2 separate regions of the Homo sapiens genome follow, and region 1 is linked to region 2. Evidence: fine-mapped expression QTL. Tissue or cell type: prefrontal cortex. Region 2 holds a variant in brackets; the other region holds the start of a gene. All regions are shown on one strand. Distances are between the middles of the regions.

Region 1 (2,752 bases), 200 kb before region 2:
ACCTGGACTGGGCTTCCCAGCCTGGAAAGCAGAGTCAGGGAGAACCGTGAGATAGGCCAGGAAAGGGGCTAAAGCCAGATTCCTCAAGGCCTCCTGAGCCGTGGTTTCATGTGTAATGCAACAAAGTTTAATACGGGAGAACAGAAGGATATTGTCATAGCTACTTTTTTTCCCCTAGGCAAATTAACACAGGATTTTTTTTTCTCTGAGGCAGGTCCTTGCTCTGTCACCCAGGCTGGAATGCAGTAGTGCAATCACAGCTCACTGCAGCCTCGACCTCCTGGGCTCAAGTGATCCTCCCACCTCAGTCTCCCCAGTAGCTGGGACCAAAAGCGCATGTGCCAACATGCCCTGCAATTGTTTTAAGTTTTTTGCAGAAACGGGGTCTCACTATGTTGCCAAGACTGATCTCAAACTCCTGGCCTCAAGAGATCCTCTGGCCTCAGCCTCCCCAAGTGCTGGGGTTACAGGCGTCAGCCACAGCATCCGGCCTAAGCTACCTTTTTTTTTTTTTTTTTTTTAATAAGATGATGTCTCGCTCTGTCGCCCAGGCTGGAGTGCAGTGGCGCGATCTCTGCTCACTGCAACCTCTGCCTCTTGGGTTCAAACGATTCTCTTGCCTCAGCCTCCCCAGAGTAACTGGGATTACAGGCGTGCACCACCACACCCGGCTAATTTTTGTATTTTTTGTAGAGACAAGGTTTCAACATGCTGACCAAGCTGGTCTAGAACTCCTGGACTCAAGTGATCCACCTGCCTCGGCCTCCCAAGAGCTGAGATTACAGGCGGGAGCCACCTTGCCTGGCTAAGCTACATTTTATAAAAGATCCTCTGTGATGAACAAATGAGAAAGCAGCAAAACAGGATGGGGGTGGGGAGAAGACAGGGAGGCGTTCAGGTGAGAGAGGAAGACGGCCAGGATTGGGACTTACAGGGTGGGAATGGCAAGGAGGCAAATGGTTCAGTTATGGAGCTAACGCACCAGTGACTGTGTGGCTGGGCGTGGGCAGGAAAGGAGAAGAAGCGAATCTCGGGTTTCTGCCTCCTCCCCTTCGCGGTGGAATGCCTGGGAGGACCAGAGGGTGGGGTGTGGAGGTTGCAGGAGCTCAGCCTGGGGCCGGGGAGCTTTGGGTGTTATGAATCAAGTCTAAGCGCTCGGGTCTCATCGGAGCGATAGGGCTGGAGACACAGGTGTGGAAAGTGTCTATGAGGGATAACTAAGGTCACGATCGCGGACGGGGTCGGCCAGGAAGAAACCAGCTTCAAGAGGATACGCAACCGGGTCCTGACAAACCTGCAAGTGTAAGGAGCGAGGAGAGAAGAGGAGGCCGAGCCGGAAGAAGCTGAAGAACAGCCCCCGAATAGCCGAGGGCACGGGCAGCCTCCCCGGTCTGTCCCAGCAGCCGCGACGCTGGGTCTCACAGCCCTGGGGCGGCCGCAGAATTAGAAGGTTTGACAGCCCACGACCCAGGGACGGAGGGGCGGCGGGGGACACGGGCGCACTCACCACAGGGGCGTCCTCCACTAGGATGCTGCATCCACTACGCCGCGCCGGTAGCCCAGACTTTTACAAACTTCCCGAGCGGAAGTTGTTATCCGAAAGCTTCCGGCCCCTCTAGGAGCCCACGTCTCGGTGGTGCGCGCTGGCCTTCCAGGCCGTCCAGGCCGCCCGCCTCGCCCCGCACCGCTTGTGGTTCCGCCGCAGCCGGCAGGCCCCGCCCCGGTCACAGCCAAGCGCCACGACGCCCGGCTGATTTTTTTGTAATTTTAGTAGAGACGGGGGTTTCATCATGTTGGTCAGGCTGGTTTTGAACTCCTGACCTCAGGTGATCCGCCTGACTTGGCCTCCCAAAGTGCTGGGGTTACAGGCGTGAACCACCGATCCCGGCCCTCATAACCTAAAGTCGGCCTAAAGGTTTATCCTACAAAGTGAACTGTAACCTAACTGGAGGTGTGAACAGACTGTCACTTGCTCTCCTGCCAGTCACCCAGTTCCAGCCAATCAAGGGTGTAGGGTCCAGCCCTGCGGGGCTAAGCGGGTGTTGTCCCCGTGTGCGGAGATGAGAGATTGTAATAAATAAAGACACAAGACAAAGAGATAAAGAGAAAACAGCTGGGCCCGGGCGACCACTACCATCAAGACGCAGAGACCGGTAGTGGCCCCAAACGGCTGGGCGCGCTGATATTTATTGCATACAAGACAAGGGGCCAGGGTAAGGAGGGTGAATCTTCTAAGTGATTGACAAGGTGAAGCAAGTCACATGATTACAGGACAGGGGGCCCTTCCCTCTTAGGTAGCGGAAGCAGAGAGAGAAGGCAGCATAAGTTAGCATTAATCAAAGACTTTAAGACTTTCACTATTTCTTCTACCGCTATCGACTACGAACTTCAAAGAGGAACCAGGAGTACAGGAGGAACACGAAAGTGGACAAGGAGCGTGAACATTGAAGCACCACAGGGAGGGGTTTAGGCCTCCGGATGACTGCGGCCAGGCCTGGGTAATATCCAACCTCCCACAAGAAGCTGGTGGAGCAGAGTGTTCCCTGACTCCTCCAAGGAAAGGAGACTCCCTTTCGCAGTCTACTAAGCAACGGGTGACTTCCCAGACACTGGCGTTAGGGCTTGACCAAGGAGCCCTCAAGCAGCCCTGATGTGGGAGTGACAGAAGGCTCACCTCTTGCCTTCTAGGTCACTTCTCACCATGTCCCTTCAGCACCCGACCCTATATCCGCCGGTTATTCCTAGGTTATAT
Region 2 (2,752 bases):
TCGAACCCCTGGCCACATGACCCAAGGCCTTGGAAGACCCTGTTGAACAAGCCACAGAGCCTCAGGGAGGGTGTCCTGGGCAGCATGTGTCTGAAGGTGCTGTGGGACTGGGCAATCGGAAGATACAGCTTTTGGGCTTAAAAGCTGCCTGTCTGTGGCCTGGACCCTCGGGTCCCACCAGTGTGTGTCCCGCCGGGGCATCCTGGGTGCTGGGCTGCTTCCCGGGTCTCTAGGGTGGAGGAGGCCTCCCCCAGTCCCCTTACCACCTCTGCCTGAGTCAAGAGACCGGGCCCCTTCCCCAGCCTTCCTGCCATGCCAGTGTGCCAGTCACGCTGACTACCAGGCCCAGCATTCTCTGATTGGTCTCAGAGCTGGGTCGCATGGCACGGAGACACCGCAGGCAGTGCCCATGGCAGGGAGCAGGACCTGAAAGGGCCCGGGTGCTCAGAGGGCTGGACTCACCCGAGGAGCCGCATTGGTTTGTCAGATGTGTTTCTGCTGAGCTGGGGCTTCTGCTGCTGGGAGCGCAAGTGCTGAGGCTGTCACCCTGGGGGCAGGCAGTGCACTGGGCCTGCTTGCTGTGCATGCACTGCCCTGACTGCGAGGCCACTGATCTGGGCCACGTGTATGTGTGCATCTGTGCCCAGGATCAATGACGTGGCCTGGGGTGAGGCCCCTCTCAGCCTGCACGGCCCACATGACATGGCGCGGGGGCTGCTCTGACCTGCCACGGGCAGTGCCCTCGGAGTGGGTAGAGTGTGGGTGTCCAGGGTTGGTCCTCAGAGTCCTTGCATGGGCCACTTGGCAGCAGTGGCCCAGGCCAGGGCTTGCAGGCCCGGGAGCCTGGCAGCTGGCAGGCTGTGCGTGGGCATGCCTTGTGGATGCCGGCAGGGGATGCACCAGGTTTGCCCCTGGGCTTTCAGGAAAACCAAGACCTCAGAGTGAGCCTCTCTCCCATCTTGCCCAGGCCCCCAGCACCACTGAAGTCCTGGGGACAGGTGACAGGAGTCCCTGAGGGTCGAGAGCCAGAGGTCCGCCCGGCCCCCACTGTTGCTACCTGTGCCTAG[C/T]GAGGCTGGCAGCACTCAGCAGGTCCGAGGGGCCCAGGCTGAGGCAGGACAGGGGCTTTCAGAGACAGGAGGGCCTGGGCTCAGCCCTCTGGGCACCTGTGGTGCCCCTCGCCAGCCCGGGCAGCCTCTGGCCTGCAAGTTTCCAGCTACTCCTAAGGCAGTACTGCACAGACAGCTTCTTCATACACCTGCTTTTGTAGTGTGTGTGTCTTTCTCCCCATTACTGCTGCTTTTCATTTAAAATGTTATCTCCCCCTCCTGGCCTTTGTCCCCCCCCAGGGAGGAGAGGGGAGGCCCAGCCTCGCCCTGGTGTAGTCAAGGTTATGGTGATAAATCCTGGGGCATTGTCACTTCTGTTCGGAGTAAATTGGCTGGCTGCTTTTGGGCTGAAGGAAAGATAATTTGCTGTAGTATTTCAAATGGATTAGAAATGGATTTGAAGGGAAAGTTCATGCCTCCCATTACAAAGGCGAGAAAGAAGACTATCTTAAGGCACTGTTCCCTCCCTGGCCTTCATTATCCACGCTTAATACCTTTCCTATTTTCCAGCGTTAATGAAATTTCCTGGCAGCGTGGGCCTGCCGGACGGATGGGAGAGGCCTTTAGATCTGCAGCTCCCGTTGCGGAAAAGGAATTACAGAGCCTTCCGTGAGGGCAGACGCGCGCTCCGGGTCCTTGGCCCTGCTATTATCTCATTAATTTCATCCCCCTTCTCAATGCAGTTCGTTTCCAAAGGCCATCCTCTCCATTAGGGTCACAATTTACTGGAGTGCTGTGACACCCACGGCCGTGAAAAGCTACAAGGCCCTCGCCCCATGCCCTCCCAGCACCCTCCTGCTGTAGGTTCCAAAGCCAGCCAGGCAGCCAGGGCGAGGGCAGGGGTGAGGGCAACCCTAGACAGCTCTCCGTCACCCCCGCCAACCTGCACAGGCCCGACGTTCTGCCACAGCATCTTCCCAGGATGCAGCTTCTCGGAATGAGGCTCTTGGGCTAGGTGTGCTGAGCACCAGGAAGCGCCCTGCCCCATTCCCGGGAGGCCCTGGGCTCCCAGGCTATGGTGGGCAGTGGGGGGCTGGGAACATTCCCAAGCATGAAGAGCGGGCGCAGATCCCGGGACGGCTCAGCAGGGGCTGCCACATCTCCATTCCGCCCAGATCCTCTAATGTCCTCTGGGTGTTCTCACACTCCAGTAAGGTGTTTTTTTTAGGAGGGAAGAGAAGGGGACAAGCTAATTGTTCATGTTCATCCATGAGAATGAGCAGGGGCGGCTGGGCGCAGTGGCTCATGCCTGTAATCCCGGCACTTTGGGAGGCCAAGGCCGTCAGATCACCTGAGGTCAGGAGTTCGAGACCAGCTTGGCCAATGGGGTGAAACACCATCTCTACCAAAAATACAAAAATTAGCCGGGCGTGTTGGCACATGCCTGTAATCCCAGCTACTCTGGAGGCTGAGGCAGGAGAACCTCTTGAACCCGGGAGGCGGAGGTTGCAGTGAGCCGAGATCGCACCATTGCACTCTAGCCTGGGTCACAAGAGCAAAACTCCATCTCAAAAAAACAAAAAAATAAGAAGGAGCGGGGGCATGGCTGCTGTAGTGCCCAGCCAGGCCGAGGTCCTGAAACAGAGCTGAGGGGCGGCCCTGGTGGGTGGGGCGGTCCTGGAAGCTTCCAGTGCCTGCTGACCCCC

Which allele goes with the higher level. Alleles are on the strand shown, and positions count from the first base shown. SD is a standard deviation of normalised expression in the study named.
With allele C in place of T in region 2, the expression in prefrontal cortex of the gene that starts at base 1,571 in region 1 is lower (large effect, 1.1 SD a copy in ROSMAP).

Evidence for each region. PIP is the estimated chance that this variant, and not a neighbour inherited with it, causes the effect.
Region 1: it holds the start of ZNF707, and the variant in region 2 is fine-mapped to the expression of ZNF707 in prefrontal cortex (ROSMAP, PIP 0.91).

What each region holds. Positions count from the first base shown.
Region 1 is chr8:143,683,298-143,686,049 of GRCh38, reverse strand. It overlaps ZNF707 (zinc finger protein 707), which reads right to left and starts at 1,571. Exons shown (of 6, transcript NM_001100598.2): 1 at 1,508-1,571.
Region 2 is chr8:143,478,391-143,481,142 of GRCh38, reverse strand. All of the region lies in intron 4 of ZC3H3 (zinc finger CCCH-type containing 3), which reads left to right. Among named protein-coding and RNA genes, the nearest start is that of SNORD149, 26 kb to the left of the region's middle. RefSeq lists an enhancer at 1,560-2,060. The variant C/T (reference allele first, on the strand shown) is at 1,068.